Homo sapiens: one gene and its partners. The protein of the gene in region 1 interacts with the protein of each later gene in a biochemical or structural test. Each region holds a gene or a part of one and is shown on either strand. Other genes may lie near its edges.

What was found. The genes of interacting proteins can lie anywhere in the genome.
Region 2: the proteins of OCRL (region 1) and RAB31 form a complex in vitro, tested with the Homo sapiens proteins (2 studies listed by BioGRID and IntAct, with this or other methods).
Region 3: the proteins of OCRL (region 1) and RAB6A form a complex in vitro, tested with the Homo sapiens proteins (2 studies listed by BioGRID and IntAct, with this or other methods).

The regions. Positions count from the first base shown.
Region 1 is NC_000023.11:129,536,351-129,543,260, forward strand, and holds the start of OCRL (inositol polyphosphate 5-phosphatase OCRL), read left to right. Parts: upstream 1-3,908; 5' UTR 3,909-4,089; coding exon 4,090-4,128; intron 4,129-4,390; coding exon of another isoform or gene 4,391-4,393; coding exon 4,394-4,473; intron 4,474-6,910. UniProt on the Homo sapiens protein: Catalyzes the hydrolysis of the 5-position phosphate of phosphatidylinositol 4,5-bisphosphate (PtdIns(4,5)P2) and phosphatidylinositol-3,4,5-bisphosphate (PtdIns(3,4,5)P3), with the greatest catalytic activity towards PtdIns(4,5)P2.
Region 2 is NC_000018.10:9,844,276-9,851,302, reverse strand, and holds part of RAB31 (ras-related protein Rab-31), read right to left. Parts: intron 5,722-7,027; coding exon 5,612-5,721; intron 1-5,611. UniProt on the Homo sapiens protein: The small GTPases Rab are key regulators of intracellular membrane trafficking, from the formation of transport vesicles to their fusion with membranes.
Region 3 is NC_000011.10:73,751,073-73,758,099, reverse strand, and holds part of RAB6A (ras-related protein Rab-6A), read left to right. Parts: intron 1-7,027. UniProt on the Homo sapiens protein: The small GTPases Rab are key regulators of intracellular membrane trafficking, from the formation of transport vesicles to their fusion with membranes.

The DNA.
Region 1 (6,910 bases):
TTATTCAATTGTCTTTTAACTCTTTGCATTGGAAGCCACTTATATGCAACCATCATTTCCCCTGTGAGAGACCTCAGTTTTTAGTGTCCTTACCTCAATATATTTTAATTTCCACACAACCTCTTATTCTTCACTTAACAAATATTTATTGAGTGCCCACTATGTGCAATGCACTGTTTAGGTGCTGAGGATACTGTAAAGTTGGAGGAAGAAGTATCTCGCCTTTTCCCTAAGGCCGATTCCGCCATCTACATCTTGGATCTTTGTCCCTCTCAATTACTGAGGGATTTTGCTTGCAACCTTACTGCCTCTCTCTTCTAGCATCTTAAAAGGCCCCCTCTGGCCGGGCGCGGTGGCTCACGCCTGTAATCCCAGCACTTTGGGAGGCCGAGGCGGGTGGATCATGAGGTCAGGAGATCGAGACCATCCTGGCTAACAAGGTGAAACCCCGTCTCTACTAAAAATACAAAAAATTAGCCGGGCGCGGTGGCGGGCGCCTGTAGTCCCAGCTACTCGGGAGGCTGAGGCAGGAGAATGGCGTGAACCCAGGAAGTGGAGCTTGCAGTGAGCCGAGATTGCGCTACTGCAGTCCGCAGTCCGACCTGGGCGACAGAGCGAGACTCCGTCTCAAAAAAAAAAAAAAAAAAAAGGCCCCCTCTTTGTTGGTTCCTTCCTCTTTGCTTTAAAGTGGCTTCAGGCTTTGTCAACAACCTCTGTTTGACCCTTCTAACTAATTTAATTAAAATTGTACTTCGTTCCTTTTTATTTCCAAACCTCTTCAATCTGTGGTCTCTTGTCTCCGTTTTCTCACAATACAGTTCCTCCTCAATTCCCCATAATCTTGTTTCTATCCTCACCACTTATTGAAACCAAACAATTATTGGTCTCCAGTGAACTCCTTGACACGTCCAAAGAAAGTCTCTTTGGCCCTCATTTTCTTGTCCTATTTTCAGCATTTGATACTGCTAACCTCCCCTGCATATTCCTTCTTTATCTTTCGTTTTCATTGACTGCAAATGATTTTCAGTGCAGGAAAGTACATGGAATAACAGAACCAATATATGTACCCACCACCCAGTTCTATCAAATCTTGCAACATCACTTTTCAGATTCTGTTTTGAGAAATAAATATTAGATATATTTGATATTCTCTGTATGCCTCCCCCGAGTGTCAATCCTCTCCCTCTCTTAAATTTGGTGATCATGCCCTTTCATGTTTTATATACTATTACAGTACTACTCATCTATGTAGCCATAAGCAATAGATGATATTTTCAGACTTTATATACACAGTATACTGTACATGTTTTGCAATTTGCTTTTCACTCAACATTATATTTTTGAAATTTAGCTGTTACTACCCATAGCTCAAATTCATTCATCGAGAACACCATTATTTATTCATTCACCTGCTGACATTTACTTGGCTTCCATTTTTGAGATTACAAATAATACTGCAATGAACATTCTTTTATATGTCTCTTTGTGCATATAAAAGGTAGAGTTTTGCCAGTGTCTATATCTAGAAATAGAATTTCTAGATTGAGGGGTATTGCCTTTATTAGACATCGTCAAATTGTTCTTCATAGCAGTTCTACCAACTTAAACTCCTTCTAGCCGTAAATCAGAGTTCCACTGCTAGAACTTCAACAACACTTGGGGTTGTCTGACTTTTTAAATTTTCACAAAACCGATGGTTGTGAAATGGTATCTCGTGGTTTTACTTTTCAATTTCCCTGAATAGTAATAAAGTTAGGCATCTTTTCATGTCTTTATTGGCCATCTGGGTTTCCTTGACTATGAATTACTTACTCAGATATTTTGTCAATTTTTCTATTAGGTTTCTTTCTTATTTATAGGAGTTCTTATATATCCTGGATACCAAGTCATTCATTCATTTAATCAATATTTTTCTAGCACCTACTTGGCTCCAAGAATGGTTCTAGGCACTGAGAATGCAGCTATGATCAAAACAGACAAAATCCTTGCACTCATGGAACTCAACATTCTAGCGGGTGAAGGTAAATGACCAATAATATTGATAAATAAAACAGAAGTGGTAGATAGTGATACATAAGCAGGGAAGAGGGATAGGGAACATGTATGTGTGGTGATGGAGAAGGGGATTGTTGAATTACAATTTTCAATAAAGTGGTCTAGGAAGGCTTCAGTGAGAAAGTGACATTTGAGCAAAGACCTGAAGGAGGTGAGAGTGCATGCAGAGTGAACAGCAAGTGTAAAGGCCCTGAGGTAAGAGTGTGCCTGGCAAGTCCTAGCAACAACAAGGAGTCAGTGTGACTAAGCAAAGCTAGTTAGGGAGAGTGGTGGGAAATGGTGGGAGATGTCCGAAAGGTGATGACAGCTTGTCTTTTTTTTTTTTTTTTTTTTTTGAGACAAGGTCTTGCTCTGTCACCCAGGCTGGAGTGCAGTGGCGCCATCACAGCTCACTGTAGATGTGACCTCGCTGGCTCAAGGGGATGCTCCCACCTCAGCCTCCTGAGTAGCTGGGACTGCAAGCACTTGCCACCACATCCAGCTAATTTTTATAGTTTTTGTAGAGACAGGGTTTTGCCACGTTTCCCAGGCTGGTCTTGAACTCCTGGGCTCAAGTGATCCTACCACCTCGGCCTCCCAAAGTGCTGGGATTACAGGCATGAGCCACTGTGCAGGCCAGTTTGTCTTTTAACTTGTTTATATTGTCTTAAAGTACATACATTTTGAAATTTCATGTAGCTAAATGTCTTATTCTCATTCCATATTCCAAGCTCATACTCAATTTTTTTTTCTGAAAGTTATAAAGTTTTGCTTTTCACATTTAGATCTTTAATCCACCTGGAACTGATTTTTCTTCCATGGTTTGAGGTAGGGGTCTAATTTTTATAATTTTCCATATGGATAAGCAGTAGTCCTAGTACCACTTAGTGGATAATCCATTCTTTCCCCACTGATTTGAAATGTCCCACACGCTGCATATCAACCTTCCGTATATGTGTGGTCTGTTTGAGGGGTTTATATTGTGTTTCATTGATTGTCTATCTCCACAGCATACTTTTAATTACTACAGATTTACAGTCACTCTTGATATCTAGTGTATTATAGATTCTGGAGCAAATGAATAACACGATCGAAAAATTACTTTGGGAAAAATATTTTTATGGCTGTCAACAGAGTAAACATGTCAAAGGAAAGAGTAAACCCAACAGGATTTATTTAAAGAAAAGTGCAATAACCCAGATAGGCTATCACAAGGGCTTACAATAAAGTTATGGCAGTGTGAATGGAGAGAAAATAAGGAATCTAAAAGTAATTCCACGTAAAATATTAACAGGGTGTGTTGACTGATTGGATATAGAGATGAGGAGGGGGAAGACGATATATGGCTTTCCAGTGAAATGATAATGAGTTAGTTTTGTGACGCAGTGATGTGTTAACAATGGACTCTATTAGGTAAGAGGTCTGGGCCAGGGATATATATTTGGACATTGTCTAGTTAGAGGTGAACTGGAGGGGACGCAGAGGAGGAGCAAAGGTCTGGGCTTTGGGGAATTCTCCGATTTAGGGCGTGGAAGAAAGAAGAGGAAAGGAAATGGTAGGATAACCAACACGGGACATTATAACCTTAAGAAATATATATATATATATATATGTATTTTTTTACTGAATGATGTGGGTCGTATTGACACAACAGGTTTGAGATCTCCCATAGGTATGACTGTGTTTTGTTTCTGTGGCCTTCAAAGTCCTCAGAACAATTTTGATGTCACAGGTGGCATTTAAAACCCATTCCTTGCTGGACCTGGTAGAGACGCCCCCAGTCCGTCAGGTCTCTCGCTGCAGTTCCGCAGTTTGACCGCAGGGGACGGAATCTGCGGCGGCCTGGAAAACTGGCGGGGGCGCGAGGCGCCGCTCTCTCTTGGGTCAGATTCTCAGCTCCCAGCTCCCCGCTCCCGGCTCCCGGCGCCCGGCGCCCGGCGCGGAGCTGTTCCTCAAACGACACGCAGCCGAGGTGGGTGGGTGTGGGGACGCGGGAGCCAGTGTCGTCGGATCGGCCCGCAGTCCGCTGTCCTGCTGAGCCCGGAGGCCGCCTGGATGGAGCCGCCGCTCCCGGTCGGAGCCCAGCCGCTTGCCGTATCCGCCGGAGAGAAGGGAGAGGGGAGGCCGCGCAGGGCCGGGGGTGGGGGTCGGGGGCCCTGCGGAACACGGTGGGGCGGGGCAACCGGGTGGCCCAGAGGCCGAGCAGAGAGGGGGAGGGGGCCGGCGCGGGAGACGAAGCAGGGCGGGGCGGGGCGGGGGAGGGCGGCGGTGGGGGGGGGGTGGAAGACCCCCTTCGCCCCGCAGTGCACCACTCCTCCCCACCGCGCTTCCGAAGGAGACCCTTGACTAGCGCCCGCATACTGTCGAGGGTATGGAGATGAAGGGTCCTCTCCGGGAGCCCTGCGCCCTGACCCTAGCCCAGAGGAACGGGCAATATGAGTAAGTAACCACCTGATTCCCACAGAGGAGGGGAGCCTGCCATTACCTCCCAACCCCAAACCGCGACGGGTCACCCACTGTCCTCCTACTGAAGCCACGCGGGCAACAGGTTCAGGTCCAGGTGTGAAGTGCCAGTGCTCTCTAACCTCGGGGCTTTGTCCCCAACTTCCAAGCCTCTGGATTGTGCTTGGCAGTGTGGCTCAGTGGAAGGACTGAATGGGCGGGGAAGCAGGAAGCCTGGGTTCTTAGTTCCTGCCCCTGCAACTGACATGTGTTGTGTAACGTTGGGCAAGTCAATAAAGCTTTCTGGGCCAAAGTTAACTCTTCAGTTTAATAAAACCATTAACTGCCTTACCTTACAGCCTTTGGAATTATAACTGGGGGAAAAATAAATGCGAGAGTGGCTTCCAAAAAGTAAAAGTGCTATGGAAATGCTTCATTGTTAACGTTACAGACTTGTCTTAACCCTATTCAGCTGGTTTCTCCAGTCTCCCCGTCCCCTTATCCCACTGGGTTGAAGGCATATTCATTAATTCAGTAATGGTTTAGTGTAGGCCAGAAACTGCCTCACTTACTGACTTTACTGTTAGAAAGAAAAGGTAATGAAATGTGTAGAGATAGAAATGACAGTATTTTATCAGTGTGTCACCTTCCTCTCTGCCATAGGAGCTCCGTAAATACTGTTGACTGATTGATCAAAAGATTATTTTGATAAGCTATCACCATAGCTGCTAACCTCACTCTATTGTCACTAATATCTTATCTCAAAAATATCCATGGTGACCATTACGTATCATAGGCCCCTATCCCTGTGTGCCCAAGACACCTCACTTGGATATTCATTGGCTTCTTGACATCATATTCCTTCCCAGTTTAAAAATTGTTCACTTAAATCTTGCCATCTCCCAACATTGGCTTCTGCCTAAAACCAATTTTCTCAGTCCCCACTTTTAGATCCTCTGTATCTATGCTGTCAGATTTACACGGAAGAAATTCCCACTGGCCCAACCTGCTCTTCTCTGAGACTATTGGTGCCACTCTAACTGGATGTCAGCTAATTCTGTGAAGTAGCTCTTTCATAGGTCCTGCTTAGTCAGCTCTACTGGGAAGTTCATCAAACCCGGATTTCATCAAACCCTGGAAGACTAGTTTAATGAAACTAAACTAAATTCAGAATTTAATAAAACAAAATTCAGCAGAAAAGTGGAACACCACTAACATTTCCAAAGGCTAGAGTGGGTTACAGAGAGGTGACCCTTGGGCAAACCAGTAAAACTTGTGTGCCTTGGTTTCCTCTAATGTAAAAACAAAATCATGAAGATTGAATAGAGTAGCTACATTGTTGAGATGACCACAGCCCAGAATCTAGTCCCTCGGATTAGTAGATTTGGAACTCTGTTGAGCTAATAAGGAAGTCGTGTGTTCCAATTCTGTGTAAGTTATGGGGGTATAGTTGGGGGTATATGTGGGGGTATGGGGCTGCTATATAACTAACATTAATATATAGGTAACACTATATAACAACTATATAACTAACAACTAATATAGTTGTTGCTATATTAGCAGTTTATATATAAACTATGTAAATAGTTTTAAATATATATAAACTATAGTTTTAAATACATATAAACTATAGTTTATATATAAACTAACATATAACTAACAACTAATATAGTTGTTGCTATATAACTAACATTCAATGGCTGCTTATGTGCCAGGTACTGTTCTAAGCCCTTTTCATTAGTTAGTTCATTTAATCCACATGTGAGGGTTACTATAAGATAGTAATATCATCATCCCCCTTTTATAGATACAGAAATTGAAGCACAGACAGGTTAAGTCACTTGTTTGCAATTAGGGAGTAGAATACCTGAGATCTGATCCTATGTAACATGTCTCAGAATTACACTGAGAAGTTTCTCTTGAAAGCATTTGCTGGAGACACCTAATACCATAATACCATCTGTAATCCTCATATTCTTGTCTCTCTGGTGTCTTTTCTGACTCGAGTGTCCAGAACTTTTTACTTTTGGCTTTTTTATCCTAGAACTTGAAGCCTGACTTAAATCTTTAGGTCTGTGGTTCCTACTGTCAACCATAGGAAATTTGCTTGACCAAAATTACAATTAAAAATCAGGGTTTTTTTGGAAACAGGGAATCAAACACTTAAGATTCATATTTTTCAAGGATAATAGATTATGACAAAACCTGTTTGACCTTTAACCTTCCTTGAACAAATCAAAGTGTTTCCTAGGGATAAGGCAGAGTTGGCATTCAGGATTTGTCACTCTTTTCTGTTTGACAACTACCAAATTCTGAATTCCATTGTTTTGCTGTATACCAATTATTTCTAATCTTTATATTCTGAAATGAATAATTACACTCAGAATTTTTATGCTTATTCTTAGCCCTACTCTTTTATTGTAATTTAGTGGGT
Region 2 (7,027 bases), on another chromosome or scaffold:
AACTTGCCCATATGCCGAAATGACATTATTTTACATTCACTAAATTAACTTTCTTGGTGTAAGAAAGTCTGTCCACTTTCTTAAGTGGATTGCATTTGGTAAATTAACTTTTTTTGGGGTGAGAAAGTGGACAAACTTTGTCTTTGTCCTTTCCTTGTTCCTTAACTGCTAAACTTACCTTCACCTGACAGCTTGCTGACTATTATAAAATCTGCAAACCTTTTGCTTTGCTTTAAAATTACTTTAACCTGCTACTAACTAAAGGTGCCTAGAGCACAACACTCTGTGAACAAATGTTTCCAGAACAAGACATGATCACTACCCACAAGTCTTAACTTGTTGTCTTTCATATTAACACCCCATTCCAATTTTCCAAGCCAATATGCTTGTACCTCTAAATATATTTACCTTATTTATTTATTTATTTATTTATTTTAGAGATAGGATCTCGTTCTGTTGCCCAGGCTGCAGGGCGGTGGCACAGTCATAGCTCACTGCAGCCTCAAACTCCTGGGCCCAAGTGATCCTCCTGCCTCAGTCTCCAGAGTAGCTGGGACTACAGGTGCACACCGCCATGCCCATATATTCACCTTAATAAAACAAATGTTTCTCACCTTGCTCTCAAACTAACAACAAATATAAAACCTGGTCTAATGTCTCTAGTGTCTCCAAGTGTAATTTTCAGGAGAAAGTCCTGCTTTCTCTGCCACAGTCAACACTTAAATTAACTGGAGCAAAATGCATAGCTATTTTGCTGGGTTCCACCCCAATCCAGACATTTTTCTGCTGAGCCTGCAGCTCCACCTCTCTTTGCCCTCAGGAAAAGTTAAAATACTTTTAAAGAGATATTCGAGTTAAGTAATTAAAATCCACAAACCAGCTGGCCATGGTGGCACATACCTGTAATCCCAGCACTTTGGGAAGCCAAGGCGGGAGGACCACTTGAGCCCAGGAGTTCAAGACCAGCCTGGACAATACAGCGAGACCTCATCTCTAAAAATAAAAAAATAATAATAATCTACAAACCAAAACTTGGGTTCACCACAATCCAGAATCCTATATGCTAGGCTCATAACCAAATCCAGCCCAGATCACTTGTTCCTATGCCAATCCTCCTCATTCCGGCAAACAGAACTTGGGGATGACTCTTGGTAACGCTGTCTTCCTCATTCCCCATCTCCTTCCAGTGTTATTGGTTCTTCTGGAAGATTTCTGAAATCCAGCTCCACTTCCTCCACCCTCGTCCAAGCCACTTCTCTCCTGGATTATTACAATCGCATGCCAACTGATTGAGACATGCGGAGACTTTCCTCCTTTTAAGTGTGATCTTTTTTTGTAAATGTAAATTGGACACTCTGCACTCCTGCTTTAAAAGCTTGAGGGGCTTCCAATTGTTTCAGAGTATCACCCTTACTCCCATGGCAAGGCCCTGCTGAGTCTCTAACCACAACTTCCCACAGCACTCCTTGCTCTTCCTTAAAAGCACCACGACATTTCCTGCCTTGGGACTTGGCTCCTGCGGTTTGCTCTGCCTGATAGCTCTTTGCCCACTGGCCTTTTCTCGTTTTTCAGGTCCAGCTTAAAATCATTTCCCCGGGGAGGCCTTCCTCACCCAATCTAAAGCCACTCCCTCGCCCCATAGTAACCTCTCACAGTCCACTCCTTCGCCGCGCAGCACCAATTACCAAGAGTCACCAGACACCGATCTGACTGTGCCCACAGCTGTCTCCCCGACTCCACTGTCACTGCGCCTTGTCACCGTGCTGTCCCCAGGGTCTAGCATGGCACCTACCCATAAAAGAGTACAGTATATATTTGTGAATAAACGAATCAAGAGTAAGTAGGCTTGTCTAATTTGCTGTTCTTCAACCTTAAATTCCCAGAGAAAAGTGATTACATTTCACTTTATATCATGAGATGAGGACGGAGATCCAAATTCAAAGCCCCGAATTCAGCACCATTCCATTTATTAGTCTCAGCTTCATGGGTAATACAAAAGACAAGCTCCCAAAGAACTTGCAATCTCCCTAGAAGAACAGGCACATACCTAAACGCTTGGAGAATCAATTAAAGATAAAATATGTTTAAGTGTCAAAATGGCAGAACAAACCAAAAGTAACCTCAAGTTTTTACTTTTCTTCCTTGGGTGTAAGAACCCAAGGAAAAAAAAATAAACAAACCCTGGGTAGAAATGCATGGAAGAGAATTAGCCACATGCAGGCAGACAAAGTAGGTCTAAAAATGTGATTTAGAAAAGGGTGCCTGGAGGAATACCAATCAGACGACAATATATTATATGAGGAGGACAAACTGCACAGACCACCCCAAACAGAGCAGCACCTAAATCCTTTACAGGGTAGCTTCAGTCTTTAAAAAGATAACATATTTTTGTAAGCAGTCTCCAGTTAGACACTGTATTTGCCAATGTTCAGAAAACACAGTTGTCCCATTTCTGGTTTATGAACACTATGGGACTGTAAAAGAGAAACATTCATCTCTTCATCCGAGTCAATGTGAATTCATTTTGTTTAAACACACCTTTTTAAAGGGCTTTTATTTTCACAGCTCCTTAACTTTTTATTGCATTTTTTCTCCAGGCATAGTCGACTGTGGAACATTGCTTTGGGGAGCCTAGGTGTCAGCAATATGTAGTTCTATTTTAAGCTCAGGGAGGAGCACATGTAATGTAAGTAGGAACAGGGAAAAGAAAAATAAATGAAAAGTCTGCTGCAGTATATTTAGGTGTACTTGGAATTGTGTTTTAAATTAACCTGCAATTAGGCTACAGAACTCCATTCTGAAGAAATTCACATGAAGGAGAAAAGAGGCAAAAGATCCAGTGCTTACACATGCAGATAGACAGGCGGACAGATGGACAGATGGACAGACAGACGGATGGCTAGATAGACAGATGACTAGACAGACAGATGTACAGATGAATAGATAGATAGACGGACAGATGGATAGACAGATGGACAGCTAGAAAGATGGATATACACACAGATGGACAGAAGGACAGACAGAGACAGACAGGCAGATGGACAGATAGACAGCCAAGTGGACAGATGGACAGACAGATGGAGGGAAAGATGGATAGACAGACAGATGGATAGCCAGACAGATGGACAGACTGAGGTTTTGCCATGGCTGTGTATTTACAAGCTTTCTTTGTCAAGGCAGTTACAACCAAAGTATAATAAAACAGAAACAAACAATTGTTTATGTGACATGAAAGATGAGGTGATATGGGTATTTGATGGCTTATATAGGAATTAATTACTTTGAAACCATAATTACCCATGTTTGAGCAAAGCACTTGTTTTTTCATAAAGTAGACCACCAAGATCTGAGGAATTAACCTGTTCAAAGTCCCTGTCACACACAGGAAGGGATTTATACTGGATAAATGTCTTTTAAGTTATTACTACAAGCCATGTGTGGTGGCTCACACCTGTAATCCTGGCACTTTGGGAGGCCGATGGGGGAAGATTGCTTGAGCTCAGGAGATTGAGACCAGCCTAGGCAACATGGCGAGACCTTGATTCTACTAAAAATCCAAAAATTTAGCTGAGTGTGGTGGTGCACACCTATAGTCCCAGCTACCCAGGTGGCTGAGGTCGGAGGATTGCTTGAGCCCAGGAGGTGGAGGCTGCAGCGAGCTATGATTGCACTACTGCACTCCAGCCTGAGCAACAAAGACTCTGTCTCAGAAAAAAAAAGAAAAAAGATATTAGTACAGTACTTCCTACTCAGGCTTCTTCTCTTTCAGGTCCTTATTTGATATTTTTAAATTTTAACAATGACTTTCATAAACTTCAGAAAGCTTCCCAGCTGGTGCAGAGATCTCAAGCTCAAGTTCAGGTCATACAAGGCACCAGGCTCCCCTGGCTGACCACTGATATCTGTGCTGGGGGTCTTCCAAGGCCAGGGAGCTAAGGAGGAGGAGGGGGCTCTGCGGAAGACGCGGGGCTGTAAGGATGGAAGGTGCTAAGGCAATCGTCCTCAGGAGCTATCTAGCTTCATTCATTAAAACCACCTGTAAAAACAAAATGTTTCATAGCTGAGCATAGCAGAAGAGCCTAACGCCACCAGAAGAGAATGAGTTTAATCTGAGGAAATGTGAGGCTAATGTAATGAGTTCGAGCCCAAACTTAGATGTCACCCAGAGTGACACAACACCAGAGAGCATCTGCACCCACTGACCATGATGGAGAAGGGAGAGGAATGTGGGGACATGGGGTTTCCCACATGAAATTCCAGCCCCAGCCTGCTAGAGTTCAGCCATTCAGGGCAAGGAGCCTGAAACCATTCTGTTGAGAGTAAGAAATCAAAGGAGGAAAGAAAGGGAAGGTGGAAAGAAGGGAAGAGAGTGAAGACCCCAGTGAAGGAAAGGGCCAGCAGCTGGGGAGGGGAGGCTCCAAGCCATTCTTTTGCACATTTCTTTTGCATATCTCTGCATAGTGTAGGTAAGACAGGTCAGAATTCCCCATCTCCAATGAATTCTCCATCAAGCCAACATAAACAAAAGATTCCCTCCTGTGGGTTCTTGGAGTCTAAAGTAATGCACTCAAACCAGTTAAACAGAAATCAAAACTGTTCTGGGAAGCCACGGCTTCTCTGACTTTGAGAGCTCTGCCAAAAACGATCTCAGGCAGGAAAGAGATCAAACCATCAGTTTCCCTTCTGGAGTTGTCTGGAGCTAAGATATTTGAGGACAATTACTGTTTTGGGGTTCAACTCCTCCTAAGGTGGCTATTCCAGGAACTTCAGGGCCAGTATTTCATCAAACACCTGTACTTCTCCCAACGTCCCTGATAATGCTCCGGTCGAACTTTCCTGAGGGTGTCTCAGAGCAGTTTTCCCAGATGGCTGTCAGCAGGGACTTCTCTGGCAGAATCCGGAACAGAATGACACAACCAGAGAACTTATGAAGGTTAAATCTGTTGAGCTGGAAGCCTCACAGCTGCAGATAGATGTGTTGGCAGAGCCATTAGCTGGGAACCAGCTCTGGTTGATAAGGTTATTCCCGGGGAGCCGGCATACAGTGAGCATAACGGGACCCAGCACTGGGACCAGGAAGGAGGCTGTCACCCTCCCTAATTAGCTCACCAGACACATGGGGTACCTGTACACGCCAACCCTGTATCCAATTCCCAATTTCAGGTCAAACAGGATGGAGACATTACTTTTTGTAGGAGATGATCAGGCAAAAAAAGTTACTGGAAGGTTCCCTCAGTTTACCTAGAGTCATCCCATCTAATGGGTGACCTTGAGTTCTATACCTTGTCTATTTTCTCTCTCCTCCTAACATAAAATGCTACAGAATGCATAATTTTCAATTAAAATAAATTTTATTTTTGCAACAGGATTACTTCATTTTAATTTACAGAACTCAGAGTGAACAGGTTCCAGTACAGAATCATGGAAATCTAGAATCGAGAGGATAATAGAAGTGGGTATTAACAACTGCATAGCTGTAGATTTTGTATCCATGGCATCCGATAAATTCACACAGAGGAAAAGTTCACTTCAGAGTTCTAAAATGTTATCCTTTGACTCCCAGAAGCATAAAAATGCAAGTTGGGCTGAAAACCCAATTTCAGGTACTTACTGATTCCTTGAAAGAGCTCTTCGATATTAATAGCATTTTTTGCACTTGTCTCAACCACGATGGCACCTATGGATTCAGCGTATTCCTTAGCATCCTTCAGGGGAACCTCCCTGGAAAAGAGGTCAAATGTAGACAGGAAATGAATGTTTGTTTGTAAAATACAAATCACCCAAAAGACCAGACAGCTTGTGCGGCAACAGCTCCTTTATCTTCTTGTAGAATAATAATTCAATCACTCAGCAAGAATGGACACCTAGTATGAGTGAGACTTTTTAAAGTTTAAAACCCAGTCTCTGGCATTCATGAAGAGAAGATATGCATATATAAAATAGTGTTCCTGCTCCCACAGAAGAATTCCAGAACAGCAGGGAAAACCATGACAAATATGGCAGTACACATTTCAGCTTTCAGAGCTACAGCTGATTTCAACTTTTTTCCCCATTACATGACTCAATATTAAAAAACACCAAACCTCTGTTAGTATGTTTGTGCACACATGCTTTTGTGAAACTTTTTACATATTATCTTTCACAAATCAGAGAAAATATGCAATGTGCTGTGACAGTTTGGAAACGAGCATGGTTATACCGACCATGGCTACAATACAGGATGGCATATCTGGACTTTCATCTGTAAAAGGATGTTCTCGCAAAGGTTTTAGGGCATGAACTCTATTTAAATGAACAATTAAAAAAATCTCCTCGGGAGGCTGAGGCAGGAGAATGGCGTGAACCCAGGAAGCAGAGCTTGCAGTGAGCCGAGATTACACCACTGCACTCCAGCCTGGGTGACAGAGCAAGACTCCGTCTCAAACAAAACAAAACAAAACAAAACAAAACAAAACAAAACAAAACAAAACTCACCTGAACGCACCTGATTTCATCTGATCTTGGAAGCTAGGCAGGGTCAGGCCTGGCTAGTACTTGGATGGGGTCTACGGCCATACCACCCTAAAAAAACCTACTGACCTCTTTTCAATGTGAAAATGCTGTGGTGGATCCAAAGATAAAAAAGATGCAGTTCCTATTCTCCAGCAGCTGCTGCATGCCAGTCCCTCTCCCAGGGGCCAGAGAAAACACAGGTTCTGCCTTCTGGCACCTGTGCTTTAGAACACAGACAAACAGGGCTCATCCAGGGGCACTCTAATCCACAACACTGCGACATAAAGTGCTTCAGGAGCAGAGGGGCAGGAAGTGATGTGTTCTGTTCAATAGACCCCAGGAAGATGCCCAGAGGTGGTCACCTTAAGTGTGGCCATGAAGGCTAGGCAAATGCAGGTCAGACTCTGGGATGGGACAGCCTGAGCAGAGGCCCAGAGACAGGAGAGTGCACACATTCCCGGAGATTATTAAAAGTTGATTCTGCACCCAGCACTGCTGGGGATGTTATGGCGGATTTGCAAATGAATGACACGGG
Region 3 (7,027 bases), on another chromosome or scaffold:
GAATTATTTATTTTTAGGTCTGTTAGAATTCCACAATTCAGCTTTCAAAGACTGTAATCTATGGCAAAGCCTTGTTTCTTCTTAATAGCATTTACCACATTTACAATTATCTTATTTTTTATGTGTTTGTTTTTATTTCCCACAGAAGAATGCAACTCCCATGAAGATAAAAACTATTCTTTTTTGTTCAGTGTGTCCCCATTGCCTAGCGTAGAGCCAGGCTCATAGTAGCTGTTCAGACATGTTGGGTAAATGAATGATGGCTGAATCTAGTAGTAACGAAAGCTAGTAGCCTATGTTACACTCTTTGACATGGTTACGCAATTGATAGTTTAACAATAACACTTAAAACTTACATCATTTGATTGTATACAGGAATATATCAGATACTTAAGGGGGTAGAGAAACCAATCGTTTAGAGGCCCAACCATTTCATTCAAAAAATAGGACTGACCTGAATTTTGTACTTTTTTTTGAGTTGAGCAAAATTCGTCTTCCTTTATTAAAGTTGTTAAATTATTTGCTATTAATGTAACGCATGAAAAGTATTCAAATTATACCAATGATGTGCTCATGGAACTGATTTGAAATTAGGTTTTATTTGGCTTATCAAAAATTTAAGATACTAGGCTGGGTGCGGTGGTTCATGCCTGTAATCCCAGCACTTTGGGAGGCTGAGATAGGTGAATCATCTGAGGTCAGCAGTTCAAGACCAGCCTGGCTAACATGGTGGAGTCCCCGGCTCCCCCCCACCCCATGGCCCGGTCTCTACAAAAATACAAAAATTATCCAGGTATGATGGCGGGTGGGAGCCTGTAATCCCAGCTACTCAGGAGGCTGAGGCAGGAGAATCGCTTGAACCTGAGAGGCGGAGGGTGCAGTGAGCTGAGATCATGCCATTGCACTGCAGCCTGGGTGACAGAGTGAGACTCTGTCTCAAGAAAAAAAAAAAAAAAAAAAAAAAAAAAAATATATATATATATATATATATATATATATATGTATGTATATTTAAGATACTACGCTCTATAGTGAAAATGAATTGTGTCAGTACATGAAGCAGATTGAGTTAATGACATCAATCTTAACCTTAGATAAATTCTTACGGTTTAATAAAGGAATGTTTGGCTGGGCGTGGTGGCTCACGCCTGTAATCCCAGCACTTTAGGAGTCCGAGGCAGGCAAATCACCTGAGGTCAGGAGTTCAAGACCAGCCTGGCCAACATGGCAAAATCCCATCTCTACTAAAAATCCAAAAACTAGCTGGGCGTGGTGGCGTGTGCCTGTAATCCCAGCTACTCAGGAGGCTGAGGCAGGAAAACTGCAACCCAGGAGGTGGAGGTTGCAGTGAACTGAGATTGCCCCACTGCACTCCAGCCTGGGCCTCAGAGCGAGACTTTGTCTCTAAATAAATAAATAAAGGAATGTTGAAATACACAATTGGAAGTTTCCTTGAGGAGTCTGTTTTGTTACTACCTCTGGCTATTGTCTTGAGATGCAGAGGCAGTTTTAGTAATGTCACTCAGTGGTTTACAGTAGAAGATTTCACTATATATACATGTTACCAATTATAAATTAGGAGATGTAATGGCAGAGAGAAGCGCATACTCAGCCTACTACTGTTTTTTTCACTTTATATTGCCTTTTCTTTTTTTCCATCAATGCTGATCAAATTGCAATATGTTAGATAAGGAAAAAATGTCTTATTGTCAGAGACTAGCAGTACTGACCAGTTGTTTTTCTTTTGAGACGGGGTCTACCTCTGTCACTCAGGCTGGAGTGCAGTGGTGTGATCTCAGCTCACTGCACCCTCCACCTCCCAGGCTCAAGTGATCCTCCCACCTCAGCCTCCCAAGTAGCTGGGACAACAGGCACGCACCACCACGCCTGGCTAATTTTTGTATTTTTTTGTAGAGATGGGATTTTACCATGTTGCCCAGGCTGGTCTCAAAGTTTTGAGCTGGCGAGATCCTCCGGCCTCAGCCTCCCAAAGTGCTGGGATTACAGGTGTGAGCCACCACGCCTGGCCAGTACTGAACATTTTATATTGGCTAGATCAGTGGTTTTTAAACTTTTTTTCCCCAAGACCCCTTTCTGCTCTTACAAATTTTTGAGGATCCTGAAGAGCTCTGTTAATGTAGTTGTTATTGTTGTTCTTCTTCCTCCTCCTCCTCTTCTTTCTCCTCCTCCTCTTCTTCCTCCTCCTCTTCCTTCTCCTCCTCCTCTTGTTCTTCTTCCTCCTCCTCCTCTTCTTTCTCTTCCTTCCCCCTTCTCCCTTCCTTCCCCCTTTCCACCTCCCCCTTCCTTTCCTTTTCTCCCTTCCTTCCTCCTTTCCTCTTCCCATTTCCTTCCCCCTTCTTGGATGCAGTGACTGTTCACAGGGGCTATCATGGCCAACTGCAGCCTTGTCTCAAGCTCTCCTCCTGCCTCAGCCTCCCTAGTAGCTGGGACTATAGGCACATGCCACTGTGCCTGACTTTTGTTTATGTAGTTTATGTCAACATTTAGGCCGGGTGCGGTGGCTCACGCCTATAATCCCAGCACTTTGGGAGGCCGAAGTGGGTGGATCACCTGAGGTCAGGGGTTCGAGACCAGCCTGGGCAACATGGCGAAACCCCGTTTCTACTAAAAATACAAAATTAGCCGGGCATGGTGGTGCGTGCCTGTAGTCCCAGCTCTTCGGGAGGCTGAGGCAGGAGCATTGCTTGAACTCGGGAGGTGGAGGTTGCAGTGAGCCAAGATCGTGCCACTGCGCTCCAGCCTGGGCAACAGAGTGAGGCTCCATCTCAAAATAAATGAATAAATATATCAACATTTACTGTATTGAAAAAGAAAATTTCAAAATATTTAATATGTTAAAAAATAATAGGGCCGAGCGTGGTGGCTCATGCTTGTAATCCCAGCATTTTGAGAGGCCGAGGTGGGCGGATCACTTGAGGCCAGAAGTTTGAGACCAACCTGGCCAATATGGTGAAACCCCGTCTCTACTAAAAATACAAAGAAATTAGCCTGGCATGGTGGTGGACGGTCCCAGTGGTAGTGCCAGCTACTCAGGAGGCTGAGGCAGGAGAGTCCCTTGAACCCGGGAGGTGGAGGTTGCAGTGAGCCAAGATCACGCCATTGCACTCCAGCCTGGGCAACGAGCAAAACTCCATCTCAAAAAAATAATAATAATAATAATAAACCCATTGCATGTTAATACCCTTTTTTTTTTTGACTGCATCCCTCTGTTGCCCAGGATGGAGTGAGTGCCTCCCGGGTTCGCGATTCTCATGCCTCAGCCTCCTGAATAGCTGGGACCACAGGTACATGCCGCCATGCCTGGCTAATTTTTTGACTTTTTAGTAGAGACAGGGTTTTGCTATATTGGCCAGGCTGGTCTCAAACTCCTGGCCTCAAGTGACCTGCTTGCCTTGGTCTCCCAAAGTGCTGGGATTACAGGCATGAGCCACTGTGCCCAGCCTTCATGTTAACATCATTTCTGAAATGAAAAAGAACTATTTTCCAAACAGATATTTAGTGAGAGTGACATTGTTTTACATATTTGCAAATCTCTTTAATGTCTGACTTAATAGAGGACAATTGGATTTGCATAGCTGCTTATGCATTCAATCCTGTAATATTACACATCATATAGGCACGGGGAAACTCCACAATACATTTCAAGAGAGTAAGAGTGAAAAATTCAAATAACATCTTAATCTTATGAAAATGGTTTTGACATCCAGGAGTTTGTGGACCTCCCCAAAGGTCTTGGGAGATCCTAAGGGGTCAGTAGACCACTCTTTGTAAACTGCTGGGTTAGGTAATATCAAGTCAATTGTATCTCCTGTTATAATGTTGCCAGTTTTTCATATCTTGTTCTGAAGCCTTAAAACTGCGTGGTACATACAGTTAATGATTTAGAGCACTAGAGGACTGGTAGAGATGGAGAGTAAGAGTCTAGGTTTCATGTTTTAGCAGTGGCTACTGACCTTTGGCAGATTACTCAACATGTCTTTATGCCCCATTTTTCCTTATCTATAACATAAAGATAATAGACCTATCATAGAGTTATTGTGACATTTAAACTAGTCAAATAATGCAAAACATTTAGAAGAGTGCTGGGCACATGAGAAGTGCTCAGAAAGTGTTTTAATTTAACAAATCTTTATTGAAAATTGCTACAGTGTCAGGTGGTTTGGTAGTGCTTACTTTTAAGGAATTTACGTTTTATCAGGGAAGAAATACACAATACTTAATACAATATAGCATGATGAGTGCCACTGCTTTTAAAAGTAGAGCTAAGGCTGGGCGTGGTGGCTCACGCCTGTAATCCCAGCACTTTGGGAGGCCTAGGTGGGCAGATCACTTGAGGTCTGGAGTTTTTTTGTTTTTTTGTTTTTTTTTCAGACGGAATCTCGCTCAGTCACCGAGGCTGGAGTGCAGTGGCGCAATCTCGGCTCACTGCAAGCTCTGCCTCCCGGGTTCATGCCATTCTCCTGCCTCAGCCTCCGGAGTAGCTGGGACTACAGGCGCCCGCCACCATGCCCGGCTAATTTTTTGTACTTTTAGTAGAGACGGGGTTTCACCGTGTTAGCCAGGATGGTCTCGATCTCCTGACCTCGTGATCTGCCTGCCTCGGCCTCCCAAAGTGCTGGGATTACAGGCATGAGCCACTGTGCCCGGCGAGGTCTGGAGTTGGAGACTAGCCTGGCCAACATGGTGAAACCCTGTCTCTACTAAAATACAAAAAATTAGCTGGGCATGATGGCGTGCATCTGTAATCCCATCTCAGGAGGCTGAGGCAGGAGAGTCACTTGAGCCCGGGAGGCAGAGGTTGCAGTGAGTGGCCATGTTGGCCAGGTTAGTCTTGAACTCCTTGCTGTCTCACCCAGGCTACAGTACAGGGGTGCCATTATAGCTCACTGCAGCCACGAGCTCCTGGGCTCAAGTGATCCTCCCACCTCAGCCTCTGGAGCTGTTGGGATTAGAGGCATTCGCCATTGCGCTCGGCTGATTAAAAAAAATTTTTTTAGCAAACGAGGTCTTGCTGTGTTGCCAGGCTGCTTTCCAACTCCTGGCCTCAAGTGATTCCCGCCTCAAGCTCCTGACTCTGGAATTACAGGCATGCACCACCTCACCTGGCTTGGACTTTTTATTAGACTTCCTGATTTTATTTCATCTGGTCTCTTTCATTTCCTTAAGCTTCTGTTTTAATTCTCATAAGATTTTTCTCAACTTTCTTCCATTTTTTTATTATTTTTTTCTGCTATCATTTTAATTTTTTTTTTCTTTTTTTTGAGCTGGAGTCTTACTCTGTCACCCAGGCTTGAGTGCAGTGGTGCAATCTCAGCTCACCGCAACCTGTGCCTTCCAGGCTCAAGTGATCCTCCCACCTCGGCCTCTTGAGTAGCTGGAACCACAAGCATGCGCCACCAAGGCCGGCTATTTTTTGTATTTTTGGTAGAGATGGCGTTTTGCCATGTTGCCCAGGCTCATCTCGAATTCCTGAGCTCATGCGATCTGCCTGGCCTCGGTCTCCCAGAGTGCTAGGATTACAGGCATGAGCCACCGTGCCAGTTCTTATCATTTTAATTTCAAAGAGTGTTTTTGTTCATCTTCTGAATGTTCCTTTCTGTAGCATCTGTGTTTTTGTTTTTTTGAGACAGAATCTTGCCCTGTCACCCCGGCTGGAGTGCAATGGTGCAATCTTGGCTTACTCCAACCTCTACCTCCCGGGTTCAAACGATTCTCATACCTCAGTCTCCTGAGTAGCTGAGATTACAGGCATCTGCCACCATACCTGGCTAATTTTTGTATTTTTAGTAGAGACGTGATTTCACTGTTTGTCAGACTGGTCTCGAACTCTTGACCTTCAGTGATCTGCCCCCTTGGCCTCCCAAAGTGCTGGGATTACAGGTGGGAGTCACCACACCCAGCCTTCTGTAGCATCTTTTTAATTCCCAATTTTTACCTTTTCTTGTCATTTTGAAGATGTTAATAAGATACATGACTTTTTTCTTCCTGCATATTTAGTTTTTGTAAATTGTTTTTCATCTCTGCTTGTTTTAGTTTCTCTATTTCCTGTTTGATGTGGTCCTCAAAAAACTAGTGTTTCTTGGCTATTTGCTTCTATTTAAGAGGTGAGCACTGAGAGTTGTGTTTTTGTTTTTGTTTTTTATGCTCTTGTGTGGGTTTGTGGGTCTTTACTGCAGAATGATCTTGCTGAGTTCCTTTTTGGGAGTCTCTGATGTTAGGTCTTTAAGTCTTTTTGCTGGTCAGATTCCCTGAAGAAGAATTACTCAGTGCACTGCTGGAGAGAATCTTGGTTGTCAGTGTTCTTGGAGGTGAATGGAGAGAGGGTTTGAAGTCATAACATACAGTAAATGCATTTAGTCTCCTTGCTTTTAATATTGTTTGTACTCTATCCCTCAGCTGTACCTTGTAATCCCTAGTACAGAAACCCCGTTTTTCTTTCTCAGCAGCATTATCTTCTAATTTTCAGCTGTGTTGAACAGAAGAGGGAATAGAAGAGAGTGTTAATCTACTTGTTAAATAGACTTTCATCCCTTCCTTCTGTTTTTAGCTCCATCTTTACCTTTATTTCTAGATGTACTTGGCCCAGACAATTCCTAAGTCAATGGGGGTTCTGTGGTCCAAATCAGCTTTCTCAGCTTTCCCCATTGTCGGTTTAAAATTGATCATTATTGAGTCTTTTAGGTCAATTACTACTTTTCCATTTGCTTTCTACTTTCTAACTTGGATGATTCAGATTTTCCGAGAACCAACACTTAATACTTGCTTAGGGTTGGTTAGTTGGTTTGTTTTTTGAGACGGGGTCTTTCTGTGTTGCCCAGGCTGGAGTGCAGTCCATTCACAGGCATGATTATAGCGTACTACAGCCCGGAACTCCTGGCTCAAGTGATCCTCCTGCCTCAGCCTCCTGAGTAGCTGGGACTATAGAGTCAGGCCAGTGAGCCTGACTCTTTTCTTTTTTAAAAGTACACTTTGGCCGGGGGGCATGGTGACTCACACCTGTAATCCC